2 separate regions of the Homo sapiens genome follow, and region 2 is linked to region 1. The links come from fine-mapping of genetic effects on gene expression. A gene starts in region 1. The other region holds a variant in brackets. All regions are shown on one strand. Distances are between the middles of the regions. Region 1 holds the start of ZNF415 (zinc finger protein 415). Region 2 holds the start of ZNF160 (zinc finger protein 160).

Region 1 (9,761 bases):
TTAAAAATGAACATATATAATGGAAATTTTGTTTTTGTAGGTAAACTAGAAGTTTCATAAATTTAGCCTTATCATGTTTTTGGTAATGTTAATTTGTCACCTCTCCACAGGAAGTGTATTGAACTCCATTTACAGTTTGGTTTAGATATGGAAAATGAGGATGCTGAACAATGAAGTTTTAGGGAAATGTGTATTGCATAATGAGGCTTTCTGTGAGAAGCAGGATTGACTTCCCAAACTGGTCCAAAATGGCTTGAGAGAGCAGGGATAAATAACTTGCTTGGGGTGTTATGGTAATAACCTTTAATAAAAGGGTGGGTTGGGGTGAGGATCCCACACGTGATTTGAACTTCCATCTAGTGCCAAAGGAGGGAACACGGACATTATCAGCTTGGCCAGATGGGCAGAATAAGAAGAGGGAGTGCAGAGGTATAAATGGTGGTATAAGACAAAAATCACAAAATGGAAACTGACTGTAGTACAACACTGAATATTTACTCTTGCAACTTCTGATTTCTGGCCAGGCATGGCCAGAAATTACAGGCTCATGCCTGTAATCCCAGCACTTTGGGAGCCCGAGGCAGGTGGATCACCTTAGGTCAGGAGCTCAAGACGAGCCTGGCCAACATGGTGAAACCCCATCTCTACTAAAAATACAAAAATTAGCCAGGTGTGGTGGCGCACTCCTGTAGTCCTAGCTACCAGGGAGGCTGAGGCAGGAGAATCACTTGAACCCGGGAGACGGAGGTTGCAGTGAGCTGAGATCTCACCACTGCACTCCAGCCTGGGCAATAGAGTGAGACTCTCAAAAAAACAAAAGAAATTTCTAACTTCTTTGTTAGGGAAGACCTCCGCTTTCTTCATAATAGTAGATAATACTCTTCCTTTCTGCTGAACCCATAGGGCCCATTACACAACGTCATTCTTGAAAATATTTGTGAAATGCTGTTTAAATTGCCTAAAATATTTTTACAGTAGTTCAATGCAAATGAATTTGTGGAAAAGTTTATTACATAATATGATCAAGCAATTTTAGCCAAAGGGCATTTTTCCAAAGGCTGTGTTATATTCATGTCTTGTTCAGTTTATGGTATTGTGTAACATATTCTCCATAGCTTCTTTTCTTTTTTTTTTTCTTTTTCTTTTTAGACGTGGGGTCTCGCTATGTTGGCCAGGTTGGTCTTGAACTCTTGGCCTCAAGCATTCCTCCTGCCTCAGCTTCCCAAAGTGCTAGGATTACAGCCATGAGCCAATAGTAGTAAAATGACTTTTTGTTTTTGTATATGATTTTTACTTTAAGGATTTTTTCCTTCCATACATTTTAATCCAAATTATATGTTTACTGCATTTCTTCTCTGTGTTACTCCAGTGAACACTTAGAAAATACATAAATGAGGGTGTTGTTTAGAAATAAAATTTTGTGACATGAAAATGTATGTAAAACAATGGCAGGTACAGACTAGGTTCTCTGTAAATAGGAAAATGGAGTGTCCTTGTAAATCTTTAGTTCAATTAAAGTACAGGGATACTAGATGGTGAAATGAAGTCTCTTAATATGGAAGTTATCAAAGATCAGATGCTTGAAAATCAAGCGTGTGGAGGTTAACCAGCATCTGGAGAAGTAAATGAAAATACAGTTAATAAGAGAGTCCCCAAGATATTAATTATCATTTATGCAAAGGAGATAATTTCTCTCATTGAATCCCTGGAGGCAATTCAACTTCCTACTGTGGCTGGTATTTCTTTTCTGAGCCAGAGGATCTTACAGCAAAACATGATATTTGTGCAACTTTTGCAATGACAGCTGCCATTTAATATACTCCCCTTAGATTTGTTTCCATTTTAAAAAACTGATATATATTCTTTAATAAGTGATTTATCTTTGCATATATATTTTATATCAATCACATTTAGAGTAAGAATCACAGTTATTAATGCTTTATGTGTAACAACTGAATCATCAGCTCCTGAAATAAGTATTAATGATATTCTCATTTCAGAGGTGAGGAAACTTAGGACAGATAAGCAAAATAATCAAATTAGGCTGGGCACAGTGGCTCATGCCTGTAATCCCAGCACTTTGGGAGGCCGAGGCGGGGGGATCACCTGAGGTCAGGAATTCGAGACCAGCCTGATCAACATGGTGAAACCCCGTCTCTACTAAAAATACAAAAATTAGCTGGGTGTGATGGCGGGCGCCTGTAATCCCAGCTATTCGGGAGGCTGAGGCAGGAGAATTGCTTGAGCCTGGGAGGCGGATGTTGCAGTTAGCCGAGTTCCCACCATTGCACTCCAGTCTCAGTGACAGAGCGGGACTCCATCTCTCTCTCTCTCTCTCTCTCTCTTTCTCTCTCTCTCTCTCTCTCTCTCTCTCTATATATATATATATATATATATATATATATATATATATATTTAGAAAATGGGTAGAACTATGAAGAGACATTTCACTGAAGCAGTTATACTGAGATAAATAGGCACATAAAAAGATTTCCAACATCACCATCCATCAAATCTCAGATCTCAGCATATTCTGCTTTAAAAGACTCATCTTGTCACATTTCAGTAAGAGGCAGAATCGAGATTTGAATCCATGTTGTCTGGTTGCAAAGACAAAGCTTTTAATGATGATGCTACAGTAACAATGCTAGTTATTTTTGTCCTTTACTCACCATCTATACCTATTTTGTTAGTATCTCTTGTAATTTTTAAATGGTTTATCTTCATATATCATTGTGATTGTGGTAACTTTGTATTAAATCTATATTTTTATAGATCAATTAAGTCTATATTTTATAGATCACTATTGCGTATGCATCTTACCTAAATGAATGACAGAGACACTCATTACCACATAATCCTGTAAGAACGATTATCCAATCTTTCGAAGGAGGCATCCAGTACCTGAGGTGTTAGTTCTAGTGGTGGCCAGGCGCTGTAGCTCACCCCTGTAATCCCAGCACTTTGGGAGGCCAAGGGGGGTGGATCTCCTGAGGTCAGGAATTGGAGACCAGCCTGGCCAACATGGTGAAAACCCATCTCTACTAAAAATACAAAAAATAGCTGGGTGTGGTGGCGCGTGCGTGTGGTTGAAGCTACTCAAGAGGCTGAGGCAGGAGAATCGCTTGAGCCTGGGAGGTAGAGGTTACAGTAAGCTGAGATCACACCACCGCACTCCAGCCTGGGTGACAGAACAAGACTCTGTCTCAAAAAAAAAAAAAAATCACTAATAATGACAAAGTGCATATTTCTTGAGCTGAGAATATTTTTGTATCTGTGTTTCCATTGTTCGTTTCCAAAAACAATTACAGGTTGCTAATACACATCAACTGGACTGTTCAGTAGAAGCTCCTGTGTTTCTCATGATCTCTGACAGCATCCAGGGGTTCACATGGAGAAAGCAGAATATGCTGAGGTCTGAGATTTGATGGATGGTGATGTTGGAAATCTTTTTATGTGCCCATTTATCTCAGTATATCTGCTTCAGTGAAATGTCTCTTCATAGTTCTATCCATTTTCTAATTTGATTATTTTGCTTTTTTTTTAAGTCGTTCTAGGATTCTTTATACATTCCACATACCAGTTTTATGTCAGATATATGGTAGGCAAATATTTTCTATTATTCAGTACTGTATTAGTCCATTTTCACACTGCCTAAACCCTCCTGTGACAACCTGAGACTGGGTAATTTATAAACAAAAGAGGTTTAATTGACTCACAGTTCCGCATGGCTAGGGAGCCCTCAGGAAACTTACAATCATAGAGGAAGGCAAAGGCGAAGCAAGGCACGTCTTGCTTGCAGCAGGAGAGAGAGCGATCAAAGGAGGAACTATCACAGATTTTTAAACCATGAGATCTCCTGAGAGCTCACTATCATGAGAACGGCTTGGGGAAAACCACCCCCATGATCCAGTCACCTCCCACCAGGTCCCTCCCTCAACACCTGAGGTTTATACTTGAAAATGAGATTTGATGGGGACACTGAGCCAAACCATATCAAATACCTTTTCTTTCATCGTCTGAAGGTCTTTCACAGACCAAAAGTTTTTAATTTGGTAAATACCAGTTGATTTTTTTTTTCTTTAATGAATCATGCTTTTGCTGCTATGGCTAAGAATTTTTGAACAAGCTCTTGATTCTTACGATTTTATTGTGAGTAATTTTTTCTTTCAGTCTCCTACAGGATACCATTTTATGGTTTGATATTTTACATTTAGGCTATGGTCAATGTTGAACTAATGTCTGTACGGTTGTGAAGTTTGAGTAGAGATGACTTCTTTCCTGCTGTGGATATTAAGTTAGCCCCTCACCAGTTTTTAAAAATTCTTCATTCAATTCCCTTGGTAACTTTGTCAAAAATCAGTTGGAAGTACCTGTAGAGGCTATTTTTGTACTCTCTTACTGTATTGCATCAATCCATATGTCTTTTATTGCCCCAAAACCACACAGTTTTTATTACCTTTCCTATATTGGTAGTCTTGAAATCCAGTGGAGTGATTCCAGACACTTCATTTTTGTTTTTTGGTAACTTTTATGGATCCAATCACTGCTAGTTTTGGATTCCCCACCGAAATCCCAGTTCCCGGACTGCTAAGCTGCAGGAGACTCCCTAGCAGGATCGGGTCCAACCTGCAGGCAAAATAGTTTTAACATAAACCGTTTTCAACTTGGTAAGTGGAAAACATTTTGGTTTCCACCATAAGTGGCCCACACAACTCTGATTTTTTTACCTTAAAGCGGCGCAGACCCCGCCCACTCCAGCCATTCCTTCAGGCTGCCCGGGCTCTTCTCTCCGCGCATGCGCAGTTTCCTACAGGCCCGGAAACGGATCGCGTTGGGTGAAGGTGACGGCGTCGAGCGTGAGTGACCCTCTGTGTAGATTAAACCTGCGCTCCCTGTTTCCCATTTCCACAGCCGATGTCCAGGGTCGATACGGCCCTTAAAATCCCCGTACACTCCACCCCAGGTGAATACAGGCCTCGCAGTGTGGGTCCGGAGTCGCTTCCCTTTGGGTTGAAGTCGCTTTGAGGCTGCTCCCCGTCCCCGGCCTTTTGCTTCTTCCTCCCGCTTAAAACCTTTTCCTGACCCCCTCCCCCATCCCCGGGCTTTTTAAAGTCTTCACCCAAGAGGTGTATTCCCGTCCTGGGTGCCTCCCAGCCTTGCCCTCGTCGGCCCCTGGAGCGCAGCGCCGCAGCTGCAGCCGCAGTCCCGGGGAGCCTTGCGTCCTCTGCCTGGTCCTGGGATCCTGCAGACCCCACCCCTGTCTGAAGGCGCTGTCGCGCCCCACCTCCCTCCTCCTCGTGCCGGGCCCCGCTGCTCCCCAGGCCTCCCCTGAGCCCGCGCTGGGGAGGTGCTCAGGGCCTGTCCTGTGACACCCGATGTTCTTGCCTGCCCTCCTCCACCCCGTGGAAAATGCGCTCCTCCAGGATGCAGGCGTCTTACCCCAAACCGTCCTGTGAATGTGTGGGCCAAAGGGATCGAGGGACAGAGAGAGCAGTAGAAAACCTGAGACAGGAAGGAATGAGGCAAACCAATAAACAGATGGCAAAGTAGAGGATGGTTAGAGATTTTCAGAGACAGTAAGAGTGGAAGAAGAAGCCGAGAAAGTAGCAGGGAGAGAAAAGTAACTAGACACATTTCGAGAAAAAGCACAGTATCCAGAGAGATGAAGGACAGCCAGGTAGGGAGAGGGGCAGCAAAGGAGGAGGCTCCTCAGACAGAGAGTGGGGGAGAGCAGAAGGGATTTGGAGCCAGGGCAGACAGGGCAGTGTGGTACCGGGACAGCAAGAGGGGGCAGCCGATGACAAGGAGAAGCAGAGGGAGAACCACAGCACGGGGAGGCCTGGGATCTGGGGGTGCCAAAGAGTGGGGACAACGGTGTGTAACAGGGAAGAGGGAATTTAACAGGGAGTGCTGAAATGGGGAAGAAAGAGCCAGAAATATGTGGAGACTGGGACAATGAAAAGATTAGGAAGAAAGAGGAATTAAATACATTGCAAGAATGGAAAGAGCAAGTGGAAGAGAAAGAATAGAGGGAAGACGGGGAGGAGCAGCAGGAGAGGAGAGGGGCTCAAAATGAGCAGAATCCTAGGGAGAAAATAAAGGGGAAGGAAAGAGCTAGAGAAAGAAGGTGAGAATGAGAGCGATGTACGGAACGAGGGAGGGAAACACACCATAATGAGGAAAGAGGGGGACCCCAGGTCCAGGTGAGTTGTGAACTGACTGGATGTGATGACTACCTTTTGACCTGTTGATTTCTGTCTTTATAAGTTTAAAATGCACAGATGATGAGAATTGCAAAGCTCCTGTCTATTAAGGCTGGTGCATTTTATAATTATGGCATCAGAAGTTAGCTTCCACTTGCAATCCCTGTTAAGGCAGAGGGAAGTGACTTGACTCATTAATTCCACAGGTCATCCTCTTCCCCTTCCCTGGCGTTGGGGCAGGGGGAGGGGAAGGGGGAGTGGGAGAGTAAAGCTGGGCAGAAAGTGAAAGACTGTCACTACATAGTGTCTCTCTAAAGCAGGGGTGTCCAATCTTTTGGCTTCCCTGGGCCACATTGGAAGAAGAATTGTCTTGGGCCACACATAAAGTACACTAACACTAACAATAGCTGATGAGCTAAAAAAAAAAAAAAAAAAAAAAAAAAAAGTTGCAAGAAAATCTCAAAATGTTTTAAGGAAGTTTAGGAATTTGTGTTGGGCTGCATTCAAAGCCTTCCTGGGCTGCGGATTGGACAACGTTGCTCAAAAGGAACATTAAAAGTGTTGAGGCTGGGCATGGTGGCTCATGCCTGTAATCCCAGCACTTTGGGAGGCCGAGGTGGGTGAATCACAAGGTCAGTAGTTCAAGACCAGCCTGGCAAAGATGGTGAAACCCCATCTCTACTAAAAATACAAAACTTAGCCAGGTATGGTGACACGCATCTGTAATCCCAGCTACTCAGGAGGCTGAGGCAAAGCATTGTGTAAACCCGGGAGGCGGAGGTTGCAGTGAGCCAAGAGCCGAGATCCGGTGACAGAGCAAGACTGCGTCTGAAAAAAAAACAAAGAACAAACAAAAAAAGTGTTGTTGCTTTTTGTAATTGATTTGCTTTTTTTCTTACTAATTCCCTTTCATCTCATGTATAGTTCATTTTGCAACTTGAGATAGATCTTCATTAATTCAGTTTCTATTTTTCTGTATATAATTATTTCCAAAGTAACTTTGGTGGCATCCTATAATCAGCTCATGGCATTTTCTAAATATAATGTGTTTTCAATTTTTTTAGCTCCAAAATTCATCAGATATTTCTTAACAATTTCAAAATCTTTCCCTTTGAAATTAATTGTGTCCAGTTTTGATAGAGGTCTGCATGCTTTCTGCTCTTTATTATATAATAGAAGCATTATTTGTTGACTAGTAGGTAATTTTAGATTGTTTCAATGTGTACCTGATAAAGATGTCAATGATGTTTTTACCTTAACATGGAAACCTAGTTTAACTAGTCTATTATTCAATTTTCTTCTTTTGTGTAATTTGTTAAAATAGTAAGCTGTGAGCTGCATTTGGAACCAATGTGATAAAACCTTGAAGAAGTTTCTTTTGCTCAGATATGTGAAAGAGGGTCTGGGAATTTTCTTTTTTTCTTTTCTTTTTTTTTTTTTTTGTGAGCTGGAGTCTTGCTCTCTCACCCAGGCTGGAGTACAGTGGTGCAATCTCGGCTCACTGCAACCTCCGCCTCCCGGGTTCAAGCGATTCTCCTGCCTCAGCCTCCTGAGTAGCTGGGATTACAGGCACAGGCCACCACACCCGGCTAACTTTTGTGTTTTTTGATAGAGATGAGCTTTCATCATGTTGGCCAGGCTGGTCTCAAACTCCTGGCCTCAAGTAATCTCCCCTCCTTCAGCCTCGAAGTGCTGGGATTACAGGCACGAGCCAACATGCCTGGCCAGTCCTGGAATTTTCTAAGGGAGATGTGATAAAGGCAAACACAGCCCATTGGCCCTTCCAGGTCGTGACATCATAATTCAGCCACATCTCCTCCTTCTCACTCAACTCAGACCTCTCAGGATAACTTGGTGAAATGACTCCCTCTCTCAGCCTCAGTGAGCCCACCTGTAACAGAGATAAGGGACTAGACCAGAAAACCTCAATGTGAGCAACACTGACTCCTGAAATTTGGGGCAAAATTGGGTGTGCATTTGTGTTTGGCAGTTGTATGTGGGGGGACTAGCCAGTTGCAATTAAAATTTTTATTTGGATTTCTTCCTCTAAAAATGAAAACAAGAATGTGAAGCAGGGACTCAGACACAGAGACCATCTTCGGGGCCTTTCTCTGTATGAGGACATCACAGAGAAATCTAAAGCAGGTCACGTCAGTCCCTGGCAGGGAACCCTCCACCAGCTTCCTGTGTTCCCCAGGACAAAAGCCCAACTCCTCACTGTGGCTCCACAGCCCTGTGTCCAGGGCCCCTGCCAGTGTCCAGCCTCCTCCTGGGAGCTTGCCCTCATCTCATGACTCCCTCTGCACCAGTCACATTTGCTTTTCTCTTTTCCCAAATGTCAAAACCCTTCCTGTCACGGGTCGTTGTCCCTGCTTTTACCCTATGTCCCTAAATGATCGTGACCCTGTCCCTTTTTCCTCCTTCGGGTCTAGACTGAGAGATGTCTCCCGTGCCCTCCCACCCCCATCTGAAATTCTCTCTGCCCGTCACTCTCTATCACATTATTCAGGTTTCACTGTCTCCGCATCCATCACCACATCGGACACTCTTCTGCGTGGATTATTTTGAGTGTTTTGTGTCTCCCTCCATTGGAGGACACAGTCTCCATCTGGGCCACGGGATGACTGCAGCACCTGCTCCGGGGTTGTGGTTCAGATGCTGGGGCTGGGGTTGGGCTGAAGACTCCTCAGGGAAGACCAAAAGGACAGGGCGGGTAGTGAGGATGGTCTCATATTCTGGAAATTTCATCTGTAATTGGTCTAAACTTCCTGTGGCTATTTATTCCAGTCTATGTAAGAGCAGAAGGCCTCACTGAGGCCTGAAAAGCCCCGCAGACCCTGTGTCCTCAGCCAGTGCCGAGGCGTCCCCACCGCCTTACTCCAGCTCCCGGGTCTTCCACGCTCTACACATCAGCGGGGCCCAGTGGCCATCCTGGGCAGGGGCTTTGCCTTCCAGCAGGTGATGCGCTCACAGTCAGGGGTCCTGGATTCCCTTCAGGAAGGGTGGCGAGAAGTTCAGAAGCTAAACGGGCCATGAAGGAGGCACTCCCTAAACAGCGGGGGAATTTGGCAGGGGACTGTGAGTGGAGAGACAAGGGGACAATGGCAGCCTCCCTCATGAGATCTGGGGCCTCTCTTTTTCTTGGACATCCTCCGTCAGCTCAGTCCAGCCAATCTTCACCTGCCTTTAAACTGGATTCCATGGTGTCCCCAAATTGGGGGCAATTCCTTCCAGCATGGCCAACTTCTAGAATCTAGACTTGAGGCCCACTGTCCTGCAGATAGCAGTTTGTGTCCATTCCTGCTTTTGTCCAGAGGCCCTTTTGCCTTTCAGCCTAGTGTGCTCTTCATGCATGGAAGAGAAGTAGAAAAATGAGGGAAAGTGAAGAAGCATTCTTGGAGGTGTCACATAGGGGCATGGAAGCAAGGTGGGCCTCTAGATGAGCCGGGTGAATGATGTGTACACCTGTCCCACGCATGCTTGTGGGATCAAGGAGTGAGTAGAATTGTAAAGGAATGTCTCAGGTCTGGCTGTAGCACATGGACGTGGGTTTAT
Region 2 (9,761 bases), 31 kb after region 1:
TAACTAATTCACTTTATTAATTCATTCATTCATTCATTTATAGGATGGAGTCTCACTGTGTCGCCAGGCTGGAGTGCAGTGGTACGATCTCATCTCACTGCAACCTCTGCCTCCTGGTTTCAAGCAATTCTGCCTCAGCCTCCTGAGTAGCTGGGACTACAGGGACAGGCCACCACACCCAGCTAATTTTTGTGTTTTTAGTAGAAACGGGGTTTCACCATGTTGGTCAGGATGGTCTCGATCTCTTGACCTCGTGATCCACCCGCCTCAACCTCCCAAAGTGCTGGGATTACAGGTGTGAACCACCGCGCCCAGCCTTATTTATTTATTTGAGACAGAGTCTCGCTCTGTCACCCAAGCTGAAGTGCAGTGGCACAATCTCGGCTCACTGCAGCCTCTGCCTCCCTGGTTTAAGCAATTCTCCTGCCTCAGCCTCCTGAGTAGCTGGGATTACAGGTGTGCACCACCACGCCTGGCTAATTTTTGTTTTTAGTAGAGATGGGTTTTCGCCATGTTGACCAGGCTGGTCTCGAACTCCTGACCTCATGTGATCCACTCGCCTCAGCTTCCCAAAGTGCAAGGATTGCAGGCGTGAGCCACCATGCCCAACCCTCTGAACCATTCTTTGTCAGTGTAATTTGGAACAACTTTTCCTTAACAACAGCCAACAGCCCCTCCCAAGAGTAGGCTTTTTTTTTTTTTTTTGAAAGACAGGTTCTCACTCTGTTGCCCAGACTGGAGTGCAGTGTCAGGATCATAGCTAACTGCTGCCTCGAACTCCTGGGCTCAAGCAATCTTCCTGAGTAGCTGGGACTACAGGTGTGTGCCACCATGCCCAGCTAATTTTTAAAAATTTTCTGTAGAGATGGGAGTCTTGCTATGTTGCCCAAACTGGTCTTGAATTCCATGATGAGCCAGGCTCACATTTGTAATCCCAACACTTTGGGAGATCAGGGCGGGAGGATCAGTTGAGGCTAGAAGTTCAAGACTTGCCTGGGCAACATAGTGAGAATCCGCCTTTGCAAAAAGTAAAAAAATTAGTGGAGTGTGGCGGTGCAAACCCGTAGTCCCAGCCACTTGGGAGACTGAGGTAGGAGGATCACTTGATTCCAGAGTTGAAGGCTGCAGTGAGCTATGGTCTTGACACTGCACTCTAGCCTGGGCAACAGAGCAAGATGCTCTCTCAAAAAATAAATAGACCGGGCACGGTGGCTCACGCCTGTGATCCCAGCACTTTGGGAGGCCAAGGTGTGGGGGATCCCTCGAGCTCAGGAGTTCGAGTCTAGCCTGAGCAACATGGCGAAACCCCGTCTCTACAAAAAGTACAAAAATTAACTAGGCATGGTGACGTGTGCTTGTAGTCCCAGCTACTGGGGAGATTGAGGTGGGAGGATTGCCTGAGCCTGGTAGATGAAAAGTTGCAGTGAGCAGAGATGACGCCACTGCACTCCAGCCTGGGTGACAGAGCAAGACTCTCTCCAAGAAATATGTAACATTTTTAACATAACATAACATAACATAACAAACTTTCCCTGAATAACTGTAGTCATGCCAAGTGCTCATCCACAGCCTCATAACTTGTGCTTGTGCTTTCTAGCCTTGTTTACTCCTCCATATATGAAAAAAAGAAAAAAAAGCTTTTTAGTTTGTGTCTCTTGGACATTTTCAGATCTTGTGATTGGAACATTCTCTCTATTGCAATAGTCCTTTTGAATAAAATCTTCCTTCTCTAAGTCTGAATTTGTCATTTACAGTGGTAAATATCTTAATTGTTCTGAGATAAATTATGTATATTATCTTTTTGTGGCAAAGGACTTAATATATATTCAGTAGGTGAAAGTAGTTCCTGGGGCCAGGTATGGTGGCTCACGCCTGTAATCCCAGCACTTTGGGAGGCTGAGGCGGGTGGATCACTTGAGGTCAGGAATTCGAGACCAGCCTAGGCAACATGGTGAAACTTCATCTCCGCTAAAGAACGTGGTGGCGGGCGCCTGTAATCCTAGCTACTCGGGAGGCTGAGGCAGGAGCATTGCTTGAACCCGGGAGGCCGAGGTTGCAGTGAGCAGAGATCATGCCACTGCACCCCAGCCTGGACGACAGAGCGTGACTCCGGCTCAAAAAAAAAAAAAAAAAGTATAGGCGTTTGAGGTTGTCATCTCGCACGGAATAGAATAGTAAGTATAAAAAAGGACAATGCAATTTATATCTATTTTTTAAAAGTTACTGCTAATTTCAGGGCTTTTAAATTACTTAATTTTAATCGCAGAAACTTTTCCAGCATGCCATCACCGCTCCGTGTCAACCCATGTTCCCAGACTCCTGGGCTGCTTCAGCGTCAATAACATTACTGGGTAAACGCGCTAGCAAAAAATGCTTTCAACATAAACCGCCTCCATTCTAAGAGGAAAGCAGTTTGGTTTCCAAAATAACCTACACAACTGTGCTTTTAACTTGAAACCGTTTGAAACATCTACGCCGTTCCACAAGACACTACAGATGGCTCTGGGCGCTGGGCTGTGGGCATCACACGAAATCGCAGACCCTAACGTGTCCCGTCCAGCCCCGCCTCTCCCCCGGGTCCCTTCCTGGCGGTCCCTCTGCCTCCCTCCCCCGCGGTCCCTTCGCCTTCCTCCCCCGCGGTCCCTTCCCGCGGTTCCTCCCCGCCCTTCCCCGGCGGCTCCTCCCCGGCCCGCCCCCGGGTCCCTCCACTTGGTCACTCCCCACCCCTCCCCGGTGGCTCCTCCCCGTTCCTTCCCTGGGGTCCCTGCCTGGCGGCCCCTGCTTCAGCCCGGCTCTCTCAACGCCCCGCCCTTTTCCGGTTCCGCCCATCTCGGACCCCGCCCCGGGCCGCTCGGTCGCTTTCCTTCGCGCAGTTGCCCACAGACCCGGAAGTGGATCGTGCGGAGCAAGCATCACACCATGGCGTATGAGTGTTCCTCTGTGTAGACTCAACCTGCGCCTCGCCGTCCCCCATTCGCACACCCGATGCCCGGGGGTCGCTACGGACTTAAAATCTCCGCACCGCACCCTCCACCTCAGGTAAATAGGCCTTGCTGTGTGGGCCCGGAGACGCTTCCTTTTGGGTTAAAGTCGCCCTGAGGCTGGTCCCTGCCCCCGGTCTTTCTGCCTTGGGCCAAGTAAACACGGCCTTTCCCGGTTTTTTAAACGTTTAAGCAGGATTTTCCTGCTTAAAATCCTTTACTGACTCCTCCTCCCGCCCCGCATCGCTTAAAGTCCTCACCGCCTGCCCTGGGCGCCTCCCAGCCTCGCTCTCGTCGGCCCCTGGAGCGCAGCGCCGCCGACCCAGTCCCGGGGAGGCCGCGCCTCCGCCTGGTCCTGGGATCCTGCACATCCCACCCCTGTCCTAAGGCGCCGTCGCCCCCCACCTCCCTCCTCCTCGTGCCGGGCCCTGCTGCTCCCCAGGCCTCCCCTTCGCAGTCACCGCTTCCCTTGAGCCCTCGTTGGGGAGGTGCCCGGGGCCCGTCCTGTGACACCCGGTGTTTTTGCCTGCCCAGCTCCACCCCCTGGAAAATGTACTCCTCCAACATGCAGACATCTTACTACAAACCCTCCAGTGAATGTGTGGCCCAAGGGAATCAGGAGAAAGAGAGACAAAGAGCCACTGAGAGGAGATGGAAAAACCAAGAAAGAGAAAAGAAAAATGAGGGAGACCCATAAACAGATGGCAAAGTGGAGGATGGGTGAGAGATTTGCAGCGACAGAGTGAAAGAAGCAGTCAAGAAAGTAGCAGGGGCAGAAAAGCAATTGGCGAAATGTAGAGAAAAGCTCGATGTCCCGAGATGCAGGACAACAAGATAAGGAGAGGGACAGCAAAGAAGGAGCCTCCTCAGACAGAGAGTGGGGGAGAGGAGAAAGGATTTGGCCGAGGGCAGACAGAGCTGCGTGGTGCTGGGACAGCTGGAGGGGACAGCTGGTGACAAGGCGAGCAGAGGGAGCACCACAACACAGGGAGGCCTGGGATCTGGGAGTGCCAGAGAGTGGGGATAAGCGGGTGTAACAGGGAAGAGGGGATTTAACAGGGAGAGCAGAGGAGGCGCGGAGATGGGGTAAGAAAGAGGCAGAAATAGATGGAGATTGGGACGATGAAAAGATTGGAAAGAAAACGCCACAAGAGGTGAAACAAATTGGAAGAATGGAGTAGAACAGATATAAGGGGAAAAAACAAAGAAGGGAGAAACAGCAGAAGAAAAAAGAGGCACAACATCGTCAGAATCCTAGGGGGAAGATAAAAGGGGAAAAAGGCTGGAGAGACAAGGTGAAAGTGAGAGGCACAAAATGGGGGAGAGGAACACATAGTTATAAAGAAAGAGGGGCGCCCTGGGGCCAGGTGAGAGGTGAGTTGAGATTGGATATGACAATTTGATTTCTCTATTTATAATGTGTTACATTTAAATTGTAATCTAATTGTTTAAATTCTACATATAAGGATGAGAATTACAAAGCTCTGTGTAAAAGGCTTGTGCATTTTACAATTATGGCATAAGAGGCTAGCTTTCATTTGCCCATGCTGTTTAGCCATTGGGCAGTGACTTGCCTCATTCAGTTATGGGTCTCCCTCTTCCTGTTTCCGAGGATGGGGTAGGGTGGGGGCAGTGAAGAGAGGCAAGGAGTGACTGGCTGTGTCACTGCCTGGTGCCTTGTATTTACCTTTCATCTCACAGTTCATGCTGAAGGTTGAGATGAAGCTTATCTAATTCAGTCTCTTTTTCTATATGTAATTATTGCTGAAGTAAGCTTTTGTGGAATCCTGTATTGGCTCATGTCATTCTTTTCTAAATGTGATATATTTTCAATTTTTTCCCTTTGTAGA[A/G]TTCCATATATAGTTAATATATCATATACATATTAAATAATATATATATTTTCAAAATGGTTTCCATTTGAAGTTAATTGTGTTGAGTTCAGATTGAGGTCTGCATGCTTTCTACTCTTTATCATATATTGGAAATACTCTTTGGTAGTCAGTAGGTAACTTTATTCATTTTTATTTATTTATTTATTTATTTTTGAGACAGTCTCGCTCTTTCACCCAGGCTGGAGGGCAGTGGCGTGATCTCAGCTCACTGCAACCTCTGTCTCCTGGGTTCAAGTGATTCTCCTGCCTCAGCCTTCCAACTAGCTGGGATTACAGGTGTGTGCCACCACGCCTGGCTAATTTTTTGTATTTTTAGTAGAGACGGGATTTCACCATGTTGGCTAGGCTGGTCTTGACCTCCTGACCTCAAGTGATCCACCTGTCTCGGCCTCCCAAATTTCTGGGATTACAGGCGTGAGCCACCGCTCCTGGCCCTTATTTATTTTTTTTGAGATGGAGGTACTCTGATGCCCAGGCTGTAGTGCACTCGTGTGACCTTGGCTCACTGCCACCTCCACCTCCCAGGTTCAAGTGATTCTCCTGCCTCAGCCTCCCAAGTAGCTGGGATTACAGGCACCTGCCACCACACCTGGCTAATTTTCGTATTTTTAGTAGAGATAGGGTTTCATTATATTGGCCAGGCTGGTCTTAAACTCCTGATCTCAAGTGATCCCTCCCAAAGTGCTGGGATTACAGGCGTGAGCCACTACGCCGGCCATCAGTAGGAATTTTAGATGGTATGAATGTGTATTTGGTAAAGATATCAGTGACGCTTTTTTTTTTAACGTTAACATAAGAACCTATTAACTAATTTTTTTTTGGAGACGGAGTCTCGCTCTGTCGCCCAGGCTGGAGTGCAGTGGTGCAATCTCGGCTCACTGCAAGCTCCGCCTCCCAGGTTCATGCCATTCTCCTGCCTCAGCCTCCCAAGTAGTTGGGACTACAGGCAGCCGCCACCACGCCCGGCAAATTTTTTGTATTTTTAGTAGAGATGGGGTTTCACCATGGTAGCCAGGATGGTCTCGATCTCCTGACCTCGTGATCCACCCGCCTCAGCCTCCCAAAGTGCTGGGATTACAGGCGTGAGCCACCACGCTCGGCCAACTTATTTGTTACTAGTCAGTTTTCTTCCCTTATGTCATCTCTTAAAATAGTGACCTGTGAACTACTAAGCAGATGTCCCCCTCAAGTCCCTTTTGTCAGTTCTATTTTCTGTAAATGTGGAAAGATGGGCTGGATTGACTCAAAACCTTATTCCAGCAGAGCTTATGTGTTCATGAAAAAATTTGCTGAGAGAGCTCATCTCTATAGCTGACAGTCTTTCACTGTTTTCAACACCAATAGCCATGTTTTCACAGTTCTGCGTTTCATTAGTATGTTGTGTTTTTCTGGAAAAGAGGAATTAAATGTTTGGGATCAATGTGATAAAGCCATGAAAGGGAAGTTTCTTTTGCCCAGGTATGTGAAAGAAGATCCTGGAATTTTCCAGGGGAGGCGTGAGAAAGTCTAGTGTTGCCCATTAGCCCTTCGAGGCCGTCATAGAGTCAGATACATCTTCTAATTCAACTTGGATGACTTAGTGAAACATCTCCCCGTCTAGCCCTCAGTAAATCCACCTGCAACGTGAAGGTGAGGGACTCAGTCAATATACCTCAGTCTGGGCAATACTAATCCCCTTAATGTTTGGCAGAATTGGGTGTACATCTGTGTTTTGCAGTTCTTCTAGGAATTGGGGAGTGCCCACTGCAATTAAAAATTTAAATGGGACTCAGTCCTTTAAAATTTAAAACAAAACAAAACCAAAACCACAAGGATGGAAGCTGGGGTGTAGACTCAGAGGCAGAGAGACCATCTTTGGAGGCCTTTCTCTGCATTAGAGTTATGGCTAAATCTAAAGCAGTCATGTCAGTCCCTGGTAGGGAACCCTCCACCGGCTTCCCGTGTTCCCCAGGACAAAAGCCCAACTCCTCACTGTGGCTCCACAGCCCTGCGTCCAGGGCCCCTGCCAGTGTCCAGCCTCCTCCTGGGAGCTTGCCCTCATCTCATGACTCCCTCTGCCCTAGTCACATTTGTTTTTCTCTTTTCCCAAACATCAAAACCTTTCCTGTCTCAGTCTTTGTCCCTCCTCTTACCCTATGTCCCCAAATCATCACAGCTCTGTCCCTTTCTTCTCCTTCGGGTCTAGCCTCAGAGCTGTCTTCCACCCTCTTGCACCCCCATCTGAAATTCTCTCTGCCTGTCAGTCTCTACCACGTTACTCAGGTTTCACTGTCTCCGCATCCATCACCACATCGGACACTCTTCTGCATGGATTATTTTGAGTGTTTTGTGTCTCCATCTTGGCCACGGGACGACTGCAGCACCTGCTCTGGGGTTGTGGTTCAGATGCTGGGGCTGGGGTCGGGCTGAGGAGTCCTCAGGGAAGACCAAAAGGATAGGGCGGGTAGTGAGGATGGTCTCATATTCTGGAAATTTCATCCGTAATTGGTCTAAACTTCCTGTGGCTATTTATTCCAGTCTATGTAAGAGCAGAAGGCCTCACTGAGGCCTGAAAAGCCCCGCAGACCCTGTGTCCTCAGCCAGTGCCGAGGCGTCCCCACCGCCTTACTCCAGCTCCCGGGTCTTCCGCGCTCTACACATCACCGGGGCCCGGTGGCCATCCTGGGCAGGGGCTTTGCCTTCCAGCAGGTGATGCGCTCGCAGTCAGGGGTCCTGGATTCCCTTCAGGAAGGGTGGCGAGAAGTTCAGAAGCTAAGTGGGCCATGAAGGAGGCACTCCCTAAACAGCGGGGGAATTTTGCAGGGGACTGTGAGTGGAGAGACAAGGGGACAATGGCAGCCTCCCTCATGAGATCTGGGGCCTCTCTTTTTCTTGGACATCCTCCGCCAGCTCAATCCGGCCAATCTTCACCTGCCTTTAAACTGGATTCCATGGTGTCCCCAAATTGGGGGCAATTCCTTCCAGCATGGCCAACTTCTAGAATCTAGACTTGAGGCCCACTGTCCTGCAGATAGCAGTTTGTGTCCATTCCTGCCGCATCGCTTGTGTCCAGAGGCCTTTCAATCCAGTGTGCTTCTCAGGCTGGAAGAGAAGTAGAAAAATGGGGACAGGTGAAGAAGTCCTTAGAGGTGTGGAGTGAGGCGTGGAAGCAATGCTGAGCCTCTAGAGGAGCTGGATGAATGCTGCATGCACCTGGCCCACAGGTGACTGTGGGCTCACGGGATGTGTGGCACACTTGGAAAGAAGTCTCAGGTCTGGCTGTAGCACCTGGAAGTGGGTTTTGGGGTGGTTGTGGGGCTGCAGGATCATTTTGTAATGCCCTGATGTCTCAGCTCAGGTTACCTGGGAAACAGATGCTGACACAGAGATTTGCATGCAGGAATTTAATTCGGAAACTCATCATCACAGTGAAGAGGACTGAAGGCAGTGGAATCAGGCAGAGAAAAACATCCCGAAGTGTACTTAGAACCAAGACCTAAGCTGAGCCCAGAGGGAGCTTCAGCAGCAGGAGGATGGGCGCCTTGGCCTGAGGGTGTGGATCCCAGAGCTGCTCCACAGCATCCGCTCCACGGGGTGATTTCTGTGGAGGCTTTGGGAAGTGCAAAAACCATCCTGAAACCCATAGAGGAAAGATAGGAAGAATCTCAGAGATTATTTTCTGGGTTGCCTTTGGCATTCGGGGTATTTTCAGTTGCAGATCAATAAGCTTTCAGTTGTGTTTTGGAAGATGAAATGATCATTTGGAGTGTTTCCTTTCCTGATGTTGGGGTCTAATTGCATCATTAGAGACATCTCTGTTTTATTGGTAGGTTTCAGTGGTATTCCCCTGTGGGGTGGAGTCACTATGAGTGGAAATACGTTGCCCTGGGTCAGTGAGTTCCTGGGGTGTTTGTGTATATTATTCCATGAGTTACTGGGGCTTGTGAGATTTCATAACAGGGCTTCTGGATCTTTATGAAGTATCTGGGGATTGTGGGATCTTTATGAAGTATATGGGGAGTGTGGGAGTTTGTAAGCGTGTCTGAGTCCAGAGGGCAACGGGGATCCTAAGAATCAGGCGCAGATGGCTTTCATTAGGGAGGGTTTGTTGTGGGGGCGTCTGTGGGTGCAACTCAAGAGGGAGTGATTATCAGGGTCCCAGAGTAAGGGAAAGATTTCTCCAAGAATCAGAGTGAAACACAGCACACTGACCTGCGGCCCAAAGGCTTCCACTGGGACTGTCCTTGGGAAGATAAAGCTGCCACATTCTTGCAGCCAGGCCGGTGGCCTCTCCCTGTTTATTCCAAGATAACAGAGTCACAGAGTCACAAGGCAGCTGGGGAGCTGAGGGGCAAGGTCCTTGAAACCCGCTGTGGAACATGGACCTTTCTCCAGTGCAGAGGGGCCACGGGGCCCTGGGAAGGGAGTTGGAGGGTTACAGCCCTGGTCATGGCAGGGAGACGCAGGAACTGGAGGCAGGAAGAGCTGTGTTCATCCCCACAGGGTGCCCCTCCGCTCAGGAATTTGTGCAATAGAATGGGGTGAGCTAATGGGGTCACATTTAGGGAAAGGAGTCTTTCTGTCCACCCAACACACATCTCATCCTATGCACACGCTTCTCCCTTTCCCCGTTGTCCTCTCTATGATGGGAAACTAATGCTTCCCCAGGCGGGTGATTGAGGGAGAGGACGGGTTGGTCTGTTTGTCTCTCTCCTTTCTCCCCTCCCTCAGGTCTCCTGCCTGCCTTTCTGCTGCTCTGTTCAGACTCTCACTTCCTGCAGTTCTGCAGTCAGTTTGCCCCACGCAAGACCCAAGGATCTGGGTCTGTGAATAATATTCAAGCCAACATCATTGCCAAGTGAGAAATCTTAGACCCCAGGACCTTTTTTCCATGGAGGGGCCTGGGCAC

What was found. PIP is the estimated chance that this variant, and not a neighbour inherited with it, causes the effect.
Region 2: its variant is fine-mapped to the expression of ZNF415 in visceral fat (GTEx, PIP above 0.99). The same link has a PIP of 0.9 or more in pancreas and subcutaneous fat.

Annotation. Positions count from the first base shown.
Region 1 is chr19:53,127,954-53,137,714 of GRCh38, reverse strand. ZNF415 (zinc finger protein 415) reads left to right here and starts at 4,805. Exons shown (of 4, transcript NM_018355.4): 1 at 4,805-4,859. ZNF347 (zinc finger protein 347) reads left to right here. Exons shown (of 5, transcript NM_032584.3): 5 at 1-2,780.
Region 2 is chr19:53,096,543-53,106,303 of GRCh38, reverse strand. It overlaps ZNF160 (zinc finger protein 160), which reads left to right and starts at 2,882. Exons shown (of 6, transcript NM_001322131.2): 1 at 2,882-3,039. RefSeq lists a silencer at 2,430-2,839. The variant A/G (reference allele first, on the strand shown) is at 4,832.